3 separate regions of the Homo sapiens genome follow, and all the other regions are linked to region 2. The links come from fine-mapping of genetic effects on gene expression. A gene starts in region 2. Each other region holds a variant in brackets. All regions are shown on one strand. Distances are between the middles of the regions.

What was found. PIP is the estimated chance that this variant, and not a neighbour inherited with it, causes the effect. A credible set is the group of variants that fine-mapping cannot tell apart.
Region 1: its variant is the best candidate, but not a certain one, in a credible set for the expression of AFF4 in regulatory T cells (Schmiedel 2018, PIP 0.77).
Region 3: its variant is the best candidate, but not a certain one, in a credible set for the expression of AFF4 in spleen (GTEx, PIP 0.76).

What each region holds. Positions count from the first base shown.
Region 1 is chr5:132,983,237-132,987,402 of GRCh38, forward strand. It overlaps the pseudogene LOC402230. Among named protein-coding and RNA genes, the nearest start is that of AFF4-DT, 22 kb to the left of the region's middle. The variant A/G (reference allele first, on the strand shown) is at 2,348.
Region 2 is chr5:132,961,382-132,965,654 of GRCh38, forward strand. It overlaps AFF4 (ALF transcription elongation factor 4), which reads right to left and starts at 2,253. Exons shown (of 21, transcript NM_014423.4): 1 at 1,878-2,253. It overlaps AFF4-DT (AFF4 divergent transcript), which reads left to right and starts at 2,431. Exons shown (of 2, transcript NR_186175.1): 1 at 2,431-2,753; 2 at 2,860-3,309. RefSeq lists a silencer at 1,708-2,547.
Region 3 is chr5:132,806,790-132,811,062 of GRCh38, forward strand. No RefSeq gene overlaps it. Among named protein-coding and RNA genes, the nearest start is that of SOWAHA, 4.4 kb to the right of the region's middle. RefSeq lists a silencer at 1,688-1,982. The variant G/A (reference allele first, on the strand shown) is at 2,417.

The sequences.
Region 1 (4,166 bases), 22 kb after region 2:
CCTCACCTCCCAGACGGGGTCGCAGCCAGGCAGAGGCGCTCCTCACATCCCAGACGGGGCGGCGGGGCAGAGGCGCTCTCCACATCTCAGACAATGGGCGGCCGGGCAGAGACGCTCCTCACTTCCTAGATGGGATGGCGGCCGGGAAGAGGCGCTCCTCACTTCCTAGATGGGATGGCGGGCGGGCAGAGACGCTCCTCACTTTCCAGACTGGGCAGCCAGGCAGAGGGGCTCCTCACATCCCAGACGATGGGCGGCCAGGCAGAGACGCTCCTCACTTCCCAGATGGGGTGGCAGCCGGGCAGAGGCTGCAATCTCGGCACTTTGGGAGGCCAAGGCAGGCGGCTGGGAGGTGGAGGTTGTAGCGAGCCGAGATCACGCCACTGCACTCCAGCCTGGGCACCATTGAGCACTGAGTGAACGAGACTCTGTCTGCAATCCCGGCACCTCGGGAGGCCGAGGCTGGCGGACCACTCGCGGTTAGGAGCTGGAGACCAGCCCGGCCAACACAGCAAAACTCCATCTCCACCAAAAAAATACGAAAACCAGTCAGGCGTGGCGGCGCGCGCCTGCAATCGCAGGCACTGGGCAGGCTGAGGCAGGAGAATCAGGCAGGGAGGGTGCAGTGAGCCGAGATGGCAGCAGTACAGTCCAGCTTCGGCTCAGCATCAGAGGGAGACCGTGGAAAGAGAGGGAGAGGGAGACCGTGGGGGGGGGGGGGAGAGGGGGAGGGGAAGAGGGAGCGGGAGAGGGACGTTTTTTAAGACAGAGTCTCACGCTGTCACCCAGGCTGGTGTGCAGTGGCACAATCTCCACTCACTGCCACTTTAACCTCCTGGGCTCAAGGAATCCTCCCACCTCAGCCTCCAGAGTAGCTGGGACTACAGGCATGCGCCACCATATCTGGCTAATTTTTGCATTTTTTGTAGAGATGGGGTTTCTTTCACCTTTTTGCCCAGACTGGGCAAAATCTCAGCCTCCCAAAGTGCCGGGATTATATGCGTGAGCCATGGCGCCCACCCCCATCTGTTTATTCTTAAGTGAACCTTGGTAGTTTGTCTTTCAAGGAATTTGTCCATTCATCTAATTTATTTATTTAATTTTTAAAGAGACAGGGTCTTGCTCTGTTGTTCAGGCTGGAGTGCAGTGGTGCAAACACAGTTCACTTCAGCCTCAGACTCCTTGGCTCAAGCAATCCTCCCACCTCAGCCTCCCAAGTAGCTGGGACTATGCACCACTAAGCCCGGCTAATTTAAAAAAATTTTTTTCTAGAGACAAGGGTCTCACTATGTTGTGCAGGCTAGTCTCCAATTGCTGGCCTAAAGCAATTCTCCAGCCTCAGCCTTCCAAAGTGCTGGGATTATAGGTGTAAGCCACAGCACTCTGCCTATCTAATTTATTAAATGAGTAAAGTTGTTCATACTGTACTCTTAGTGTTCTTTTAATATCTGGGAATGTGTTGTAATAGCACCTCTCTCATTCCTAATGTTGGTAATTTGTGTCCTCTTTTTTATCCTGGGCAGTCTGGTTAGAGGTTTATCAATTTTATTAATCTTCTCATAGAACCATCTTTTGGATTCACTGAATGTATTGTTTTTTCATTTTCTATTACATTGATTTCTGCTCTGATCTTTATTTTTCTTTCCTTTCTTATATTTCTTTCTTCTGCTTATTTTGGGATTTTTTGCTCTTGTTTTCCTAGTTTCTTAAGATGAAAGCTGAAGTCATTGATTTGAGACTTTTCCCCTAATATAAATTTCCCCTACGTATTACTTCAGCAGCATTTCGCAAATATTAATATGTTTTGTTTTCATCTTCATTCAGTTAAAATGTCTTCTAATTTTCCTTTTGATTTCCTCTTTGAGCATGGATTATATGGAAGCATCTTGTGGCCGGGCACAGTGGCTCACGCCTGTAATCCCAGCACTTTGGGAGGCCAAGGCAGGTGGATCACGAGGTCAGGAAATCGAGACCGTCCTGTCCAACATGGTGAAACCTCATCTCCACTAAAATACAAAAAAATTAGCCAGGTGTGGTGGCGAACACCTGTAGTCCTAGCTACTCAGGAGGCTGAGGCAGGGGAATCGCTTGAACCCAGGAGGCAGAGGTTGCAGTGAACCAAGATTGCGCCATTGCACTCCAGCCTGGTGACAGAGCAAGACCCCATCTCAAAAAAAAAAAAGAAGTGTCTTGTTTAGTTCCATATAGTGGGGGACTTTCCAGAGATGTTTCTGTTATTGATTTCTAATTTAATTCCACCATGGTCGAAGAATATATCTTGTATGACTTGAACATTTTCATATTTATTGAGACTTGTTTTATAGCATAGAATGTGGACTACCTTGGT[A/G]AATATACATTACTAAATATTCTGGGTACACTTTAAAAAGAATGTATATTCTGCTATTGTTGGGTGGAGTAGTTCTGTAAGTGGCAATTATGTCAAGTGGGTTTATTGTGTTGTTCAAATCTGCTGTGTCTTCACTGATTTTTTTTGTCTATTGTTCTATTAGTTATTGAGTATGAGTATTGAGATCTCTCACTATAATTGTGAATTTGTCTATTTCTCATTTTATTTCTATCAGTTTTGCTTTATGCTTTCAAGCTCTGTTATTAGGTGTATTCATGTTTAGGATTATTATATCCTAATATATGAATTGTCACATTACCATACAAAATTATGAAATAGTAATAATACAAAAATAATATGAATATGAAATATGAATATAAATGAAAATATGAATGTGAAATGTGAATAATGCAAAATATATGAATGATACAAAAATTATGAATTGCCACATTATCATACAAAATGACTTTTTTTATCCTTGTTAGTACTCTTTCTTTTTTTTTTAATGGAGATAGATAGTAGTCACAGTTTTTTGTTTTTGTTTTTGTTTTTTTTTGAGACGGAGTCTTGCTCTTTCGCCCAGGCCGGAGTGCAGTGGCGCAATCTTGGCTCACTGCAAGCTCCTCCTCCTGGGTTCACGCCATTCTCCTGCCTCAGCCTCCCGAGTAGCTGGGACTACAGGCGCCCGCCACCGCGCCCGGCTAATTTTTTGTATTTTTAGTAGAGACAGGGTTTCACCGTGTTAGCCAGGATGGTCTCAATCTCCTGACCTCATGATCCGCCCGCCTCGGCCTTCCAAAGTGCTGGGATTACAGGCATGAGCCTCCGCGCCCCGCCAGTACTCACGGTTTTAATTATAGTGGCAAGTCATGGGAGGCAAGTCAATGTTTACCAGTGAAACAGTAGTTAATAAATTATGATACAACCAAGTAGCTACTAAAAGCTAAGTTTCCAAAGAATATTTAAAAGTATTTTTTAAATGTTCACAGTACACGGGAAAAAAAAGGGTTAAAGAAAGAACTGCATACATATTCTGATCTCATGGGTGAGGGTGAGAAATATACACCCAAAGAAGCCTGGAAAGACATATCCCGAAATGTTAAAATTGATTATTTCTGGGAGTAGATACCAGGTGATTTTTGGCCTTCCTTTTACTTTTTGGTTTCTCTCAGATATTTTTTTGCATGTATTGCTTTTATACTTGGGGGAGAACAATAAATGGTATTTTGTGGGGGGGAACCACAGAAGATAGAAAAATCTAGTTATGCTTTTTCATTCTTCCCATTTTTAAATTACTAAGAATCAAGATGCTTAAATCTATGCATGAAATAAAAAAAGAAAATGTCTAGGGGATTCTTTAGTAATAAAAATATTTATCAAATCTAAAAGTGTAGAAATACTGCTTTATTGGATAAACTTACTTCCAAATTACTTTCATGTTTTTTAAGAAGTCCTAATGAGCATTCAAGAAGAAAACATGTACTGCTTCCACAGGAATAAGGACAAATAAAATGAGGTTGACGCTTACCACAAATGATATTTCCTAAAAGAAAAAAACGTAATATTTAACTTTTCTTCTGTTGAGGCAAGGTAAGTGAACTGCATACATCATAAATAAGATTTTCTTGGCTGGGCGCTGTGGCTCATGCCTGTAATCCCAGCACTTTGGGAGGCCAAGGTGGGCGGATCACGAGGTCAGGAAATCGAGACCATCCTGGCTAACACGGTGAAACCCCGTCTCTACTAAAAAATACAAAAAATTAGCCGGGCGTGGTGGCGGGTGCCTGTAGTCCCAGCTACTCGGGGGGCTGAGGCAAGA
Region 2 (4,273 bases):
AATTCTTGTATTTTTAGTAGAGACGGGGTTTCATTATGTTGGCCAGGATGGTCTAGAACTCCTGACCTCAGGTGATCCGCCCACCTCGGCCTCTCAAAGTGCTAAAGTGCTAGGATTACAGGCGTGAACCACCAGGCCCGGCTGCAGAATATATTGCTACAAAAAGGGTACAATAACTCAAGAGTACACAGAAGAGAATGTATCAACCTGAATGTGAGAATCTGACAAGTAGAAAGTGACTCAGAACAAAAATATTCAATCTTTAAGAATTCTTAATTACACAGCTTCACCTTACACTCCCAAACTGTAGATCATGTTCCAATTAACACAGCTGGGCTCTTTTTTCAGACACCCCATCTTGTCCCCACTTGAAGCAAAATTTTATTTAAAGTAAAATTTGCCTACTGTTTCTAGAGAGTTAACAAAAATCAAAGTACCAGCCTGCAAACCACCGCAAATTGAATGAAACTGCTGGTAATAAAAAAAGAAAAATTTGACTGCTTCCAGGTTTTTAGTAAGTTAACTCTGAAAGATAACTTAAAATAACTTACTGGGAATTTTTCTTATATTTAGGAGCTGAAAGATGCAGTGATAATAAGGAAAACGAATCTGAGAAATTTAAAGAAGCCAGCTTTGTTGAAAACCAAGTGGCCACTTGCCAACACTTCTTTATGCACGTATGACCAAAGATGATTCTAGGCAGACTCACAGACCACAAAGGCTCTTTATCAAATCCCAAATTAAGAAAGTTCTCATAAATATTTCAATTTTGATAAGTTAAAGACCAGTTAAGTTTTAAAAAGCACTTTATGAAGTGCAGAATCAATACAGAAACGAAGCTTTGCGCTTTTCATATCTGAGCCCGAAAAACAGCACACATTTTATGTTACATTTACAGTCTATTCACAGACACCTATAGCTTAGATTCCATCAAGAAAAACACTGGTCAATGGAAAAGTGACTGGCCTTAGTATAAAATTTCCATGTGGCCAGCAGGGAAGAAACCGCATAATTCTGAATTACAACTGACAAAACTACGAGAACCCTAAATCGAACTCTTCGCCTTGAACTCCATATACAAACATTTCAGATTCGTACTTCCACTTCCTGAAAATAATACTGTTTGTAAACGAAAAGGCAATAAGGTTACTCCCAAAACTCCTGTACTCCATGATCCATCCTCAAAGAGTGGAAGGAACAGCAAAGTAGAAGGAACAAAGCACTGACGTCAATTACGAGATTAACCCCAAGCACAGGCAGCTGGAGGAAAGGCCTAAACATCAATATCCACGCACAAGCTACTGGGATAACTAGGTAACAGACCGATTCAGAAGTTGTAGGGGAGGGTATTCGAGTATTATACCCCCACGTTCCCATTTTTAGTCAATCCCCTTCGCAAGTCGAAGGCGGAAATTTTTCCTTCTTTTTTTTTTTTTTTTGCGGGGGTGGGGGTGTGGGAGAGGTGCGCAGGATCGCGAGAAGGAAAGCGAGAACTAGCTGGGTAATGTTAGCCAGAATCTGGGCCTATTTTCTCTTTAATTAGACATAATTTGAAATTGAGGAGGATATGAAAAAGTAACAAATCAGCCGATGGAACGTCTGAGGAAAGAAAGAGGAAAGGAGAAACACTAAACGGATGGATTTCTGGGAATTTTTGTTAGGATTGGGTTAGCTTTTTTTATTTTCTTATCTTTGCGGGAAGGTGGTGGGGTGGGACGCGCAGATGAGAGGAGGGGTGACGCCTGATTGAGCAGCCCCAGCCCGGAGGGTCTCCCCGAGGCTCCCCGCAGAACTTGCGGGCCCCCACCCCCACCCGGCCCCGGCCACAACCCCCGCGGCCCGGCCCGGCCCTGGGTCAGTCTGTCGGCCCTTCTTACCTCCAGTCCCGGCTCCGCTAGGCCCGAACCATCTCCTGGCTGCGGCAGTGGCGGCGCCGGGCCTGCACCTTCACCGGACGCGCATTCGAGCCCGCCCAGGGGGCGGTGACAGGCTGCCAAGGGCGAGGGGCTCCGGGAGGCGGCGGGGGTTCCGGAGGCCTCGACAAACGAAGGCGGCGTCGGCGGCGGCGGCAGCGATGCGCCTCACACGGAACAGGCGTAGGCCCCGCACCGCTCCATGACGGTCGGGCCCGGGCTGGGACAGCTGACTGAGGCGGCGGGGGCGGGTTAACGAAGACCTGGCACCAGGATCCCCGCCCCGTCCGCTGGCGGCGGCGACGGCAGCTGGACTCCTGCAGCCAGGGCTGTGACTGACGCAGCGGCCGTGCCACCATGTGACCAAGACCGGGCGGGTGCGGGGCGTCACGTGATGCCTCTGCGCCCCTCCCCGCTGGGGGAGTAGGGGGCGGGGGTCTGTGGGCCGGCTGGGCCGGGAGGCGACGCCCGGGGTGGTGACGTTCCCGGCTGTGGGGTCTGATGACCCGGGCCAGGCAAAGGACCCGCCCGAGCGGTATAGGCCTGAGCCTCTGGGCACTGCGGCCGCGTCCGGCAGGGCTGCCACGGCAGTACAGGGCCTGCACATCCGGGAGCTCACGCCCTCCTGCGCGTAGCCCGCTAGTGAGGTTCCGAAGGGCGGGGCCGGGCCGAACCGGATATGCCGGTTCTGGGGCTCAGGTGACAAACCCAGGCCTTCCGCCCCTCGCCTCTGGTGGGGATCCGGCCCAACCCGGAGCTTCCTAGACTTGCTTCCAGGTGTCGAAGCCTCGAGTCCTCAAGAGGTCCAGCAAAAAGGCAAAGGACGCAGGAGGCTGTTCGGTATTTCCAGTAAACTTACCCTAAGAAGCCAAACCGTCCCTCTTTCTTCGTCATTTAAACATCTTCTGCCACTAATGTTTTCCTTTTCATTTATTTATTGAGATAGATCTCGCTGTTGTCGCCCAGGCTGGAGTACAATGGCGGGATCTCGGCTCACTGCAACCTCCGCCTCCCGAGTTCAAGCGATTCTAGTACCTCAGCCTCCGGAGTAGCTGGGATTAAAGGGGGGAGCCACCACCTACGGCTAATTTTTGTATTTTTAATAGAGACACGGTTTCACCATGTTGGCCAGGCTGGTCTCGAACTCCTGACCTCAACCAATCCACCCGCCTGGGCCTCCCAAAGTGTTGGGATTACAGGCGTGAGCCACCGCACCCGGCCCACTAATGTTTTTCTTCAGCATATCATTCTGAACACTTCTTTCACCTCTAAACATCTACTATTTCTTTTAAGCTTCACTCTTTATATGCATTTTCTCTATAGAGCTATATAAATTAGGAAATGTCTTAATAGAAAACTCAAAACATGACAGAATAAAAAATAATTGATTCTCCCATCTCTGTCTGTTAGCTGTTTCAGTCCTGGAAGGCAATCACTTAGCATTTAATAATGTATCTTTCCCTACATATTTGTAAGTAATACATTAAAATATAGGGATACTTCTTTTTACACAAAAGGTAACACACTATATACGCTGTTCAGTCCTTTTTTTCTCACTTCAAATATCTTGGATAGGCTGGGCACAGTGGCTCAGGCCTATGATCCCAACACTTTAGGAGGCCGAGGGGGGCTGATCGCTTGAGACCAGGAGTTTGAGACCAACCCCGGCAACATGGCAAAACCCCATCCCTATGAAAAATACAAAAATTAGCCGGGCGTGGTGGTGCATGCGTATAGTCCCACCTACTCTGGAGACTGAGGTGGGAGGATCACTTGAGCCTAGGAGGTCGGTGCTGCAGTGAGCCGGGAGCTTGCCATCCAGCCTGGATGAGAGTGAGACCCTGTCTCAAAAAAAGAAAAAAGAAAAAAATGTCTTGGACATCCTGCCATATCAGTATATAATGAACTACCTTTTTCTTCCTAGAGGCAGAATAATATTCCACTTATGCAAACATCCTAATTTATTTAACCAATCCCCTACAGGTGGATATTCCGCTTGTTGCCAAGCCATTACTATTACATGCTAAGCTGCAATGAATAACCTCATACAAGACAGGGCAACATAGTGAGACCCCATCTCTACAAAAAATAAAAAATTAGCCGTTTGTGGTGGCACAGGCTTGTGGTCCTAACTACTAGAGAGGCTGAGGTGGGAGAATCGTTTGTACCCAGGAGATGAAGGCTGCAATGAGCCCTAATCGCACCACTGCACTCCAGTCTCAGTGACAGAGCAAGACCCTGTCTCAAAAAAGTTAAAATAATTAAAAACGAAAAACAACTCCATATAATGAGCAAATTATACCTGTATGATAAATCCTTAGCCTGGAATCTTTAGATCAAAAGGATTTTTAATTTTGATA
Region 3 (4,273 bases), 150 kb before region 2:
GCACTTTGGGAGGCCGAGGCAGGCGGATCACGAGGTCAGGAGTTCAAGACCATCCTGTCCAACATGGTGAAACCCCGTCTCTACTAAAATACAAAAAATTAGCCGGGCATGGTAGTACACGCCTGTAGTCCTAACTACTCGGAGGCTGAGGCAGGAGAATCCCTTGAACCCGGGAGGCAGAAGTTGCAGTGAGCCGAGACTGTGCCACTGCACTCCGGCCTGGCAACAGAGCGAGACTCCGTCTCAAAAAAACCACAAACAAAAAACACCTCATACCTGAGAAGGCAAGGGACTGAAAGGGATGATTAAAGATGGGTAGCAAAGGGCACCAACTGCTGGAGATTCATGAAGCCAGGACACAGCTTTCCAAGTCTCCGTGGACCAGGTCTGTGGCTCCCTACTTAGCAACCAAGCAATAGTCTGAGCAATCAGAGAAGCAGCAGCCTGAAAAATGAACTGCAGAGTCAAAAACTCAGTCTACAGCAGAAACACGTGAGCTGACACTTTCACTCAGATTTAGAAATAAAGTTCTTTTGACCTTAGAGAGAAGTGGGCTTAACAAGCTGCAGGCATGAGAGAGGTCCCCTTTGCTTCCCCTGGGCTGGAAGCAAGAACAAAGCACGATTTGTTCCGGAAGTTGACCGCAAAAGCTTGATATCTGGGCAAAGTCCCTTTACAGCCACTGCTGGGCAGCCCATCCCCCTCAAGTCCCTGGAGCTCCTGCCTCCTGGGACCGGAGGAACTCTTCTTTACAGATGAGATGTATTGGTGAGACACCAGGGGGCAGAGGTGGCAGGCTGCGTTGGATAAACGCAATGGAAGGAGCTGATTTGCACTGCCATGGTAGGGGAGAAGACATTTACAAACATTAAGCATCCGCTACAGCTCTTGGTGGGGCCTAGGCATGGGGTTCAGAGGGTAGTGTGGATTGGAATAAGGAATAGAACAGAACAGAATACAGACCAGGCGTGATGGCTCACGCCTATAATCCCAGCACTTTGGGAGGCCGAGGTGGGCAGATCACCTGAGGTCAGGAGTTTGAGACCAGCCTGAACAACATGGTGAAACCCTGTCTCTACTAAAAACACAAAAATACCATTGGCAGGCATCTGTAATCCCAGCTACTCAGGAGGCTGAAGCAGGAGAATCACTTGAACCCAGGAAGCAGAGGTTGCAGTGAGCCAAGATCGTGCCATCGCACTCCAGCCTAGGGGACAAGAGCGAGACTTTGTCTCAAAAATAATAATATAAATGTAATGTAACATAGCATAAGATTATGAAATTATTTTATTTTATATTTAAATATTGTAGCTTTAAAAATTACAGAGGGCCTCTACCCTGATCTGCTTCATATTTAAGATACTGAGATAAGAACAAATAGCCTTCCTATTTCATTCTCCATGTTCAAGACACATCATGGAATTTTATCCTTGCTATAAATATACATTTTATATTTGATTTTCCTAATGTTGCGGGCAAACTGCTGGGTCACTGGAAGAATTGATTCTCTGGCCTCACTGGCAACAGGGCATCAAAACTGAAAAGCAGCCTGGGGAACTGGATGTCATTAGCATCCTCACTGTAATGTTTGCTCAAACTATAAACTTATCACTTAAAATATTAAAGCAGAGTATGTTCAGAAGCACAAGCATAAATAAAAGTTTAAGTAAGGTATTTGTGAGGAGTTTTTCCCTACTTTATTTATTAAACATTCAGAACATCAATTTTAAATCATCAGTGACCTAACTTTGCATGGTAAATGAGCATAGGCAGGTAGCCTGGGGTTCCAGTTTGAGCTCAGCCAATTGTTAACTGTGACCTTGGCCAAGTTTCCTTATGTAGCTCAGAGCCTGAAGCCTGTTAAGCACTGTCAATAAACGGCTTGTACTAGCAATTCCTGTTCAATCAGTATTTAATCCTTGTCTACTCTTAGCGATCATGAAACCACCATTGCAAAATTATAACTGAGACAGTGAAAGAGATCTGATCTTACTAACTCCATCTTGCTTCTAACCTCCAAGTTGTCCTTGTTCATTCCTGAGCATAGGCCAAATTAACTTTGGGAGAAACTTAGTTTATAGTTTGAAACAAAGATGGTAACAGCCCTTTCCCAAAATGAACTAGACTGCCTTTGTAGAATTAACAAATTAGCCAAAAGATTAGATTATGGTTTAGAAGTCAGGCAGCTGGAGGCTGCAAGATTCTAAACCTCCCCAAATTGCCCCTGGGGATAACGTCACTATTGTGAAGCCTAAGATCAGTTCTTGAGATATTTTGCAGACCCTGTACTTGATGCATCAGCTGGCACCACCCAGGCTCGTAAACTGGCTCATCTGGTCTTGTAGCCCCCACCCAGGAGCTGACTCAATGCAAGAGGACAGCTTCAACTCCCTGTGATTTCATCTCTGACCTGACC[G/A]ATCAGAACCCCCAATTCACTGGCCCCCCTACCCACCAAATTATCCTTAAAAACTCCAGTCCCTAAATTCTCAGGGAGACTGATTTGAGTAATAATAAAACTCTGGTCTTCTTGCACAGCCAGCTCTGTGTGAATTACTCTTTCTCCATTGCAATTCCCCTGTCTTGATAAATCGGCTCTGTCTAGGCAGTGGGCAAGGTAAATTAATCCATTGGGGGGTTACAATCATAGTCAAAATTAGTTCAAACCACATAAATCAATAATGATCTTTAACAGAGAGTGCTCTCCCTCATCTCTCTTCTTGGAGACAAGAGATGGTAACAAAAGTCCAAGTTGAAGCTTCACTACCTATGAGATCATGGAAATGACTTTTCAAGGAACACAACAATTGGCCCAGAAAAAGGTAGGAAAATAAAATATAAAAAGTAGCTATTGAAATGAAAATTAAAACAAAGGGAATATAACTTTAAAAGTGAAAACAAGACAATATAATGCAAGTTCTGTTTCTGAAGTATCTTTGGCACCCATCCACTGTCCGAGCTTGATAAGCCCTACCGTCTTCCACTGGACCCTGCCACTACCTCCCCAGGGTCCCCTCTTCCGCCCATTCGCCACACCAGTCTTGACTAAGGTAACATGGGTTCTTAGCAACACGCGGTCTAATCCCATGTGTACCAAATGGTGTAGATGGTTGTGTATATATCTATGGATGTACAGAGAAAAACTCCTCACAGCATAAACTAAAAAATATCAAGTGGCTCTCTAACATGTGACATATTCTTTTTATATTTTAGAAACTATTGAGAATTGGAAAAAACATTAATTCTATAATCAGAAAATAAAGCCACTTTTTAAAAAGAAGAAAGCAAGCTCTCAATGACATTCTACTGCAAACAGGGCAAAGTCCAAACTACCATTTAAGGCCCTTCACCCATCACCCCAGATGACTTTTCCAACATTATATTTTTCCATATCCCTGGCACACACCCTGAACTTCAAACACACTGGACACTCTTTACCCTGAATTCAGCCTTCATAGTCCCACTTTCTTTTTTTGTTGCCCAGGCTGGAGTGCAGTGGCACTATCTTGACTCACTGCAAGTTCTGCCTCCCGGGTTCACACCATTCTCCTGCCTCAGCCTCCCAAGTAGCTGGGGCTACAGGTGCCCGCCACCATGCCCGGCTAATTTTTTTGTATTTTTAGTAGAGACAGGGTTTCACCATGTTAGCCAGGATGGTCTCAATCTCCTGACCTCATGATCTGCCCACCTCCGCCTCCCAAAGTACTGGGATTACAGGTGTGAGCCACCACACCCGGCCCACAGTCCCACTTTCAAGCTTTCACCTATCCTGTTCTCATAGCCTGCCTCTTGGAGATGTCCCAGTCCTCCCTCTTCCCTATCCTTCCCCACCCCTTCACCCCCCATCCCCCACGTGCTCTGGTAAGTACCTGGAGCATTCATTTCATTTGGCTATGTCACATAATTAATTGTACTTAATGTTTTTCTCTTCTCCACTAAGCAGTAAGCTCTTCAAAGGCAGATTGTATCTTCTACCCAGAGTATCTGGCTTACAGCCTTGCACCCAAAGATATCCAATAGATGTTTGTTGAAATAAATTATTGAGGAATGCAGAGCACGATACACCTGAGGCAGTTTGCAGAAGGCTTTACAGGGGTGGGCCTTGAGGTGAGTCTAAAGAATGGGTAAGGTAGGGCAGGCGCAGTGGCTCACGCCTGCAATCCCAGCACTTTGGGAGGCTGAGGTGAGTGGATCACCTGAGGTCAGGAGTTCGACACCAGCCTGGCCAACATGGTGAAACTCCATCTCTACTAAAAATAAAAAATTAGCCAGGCAT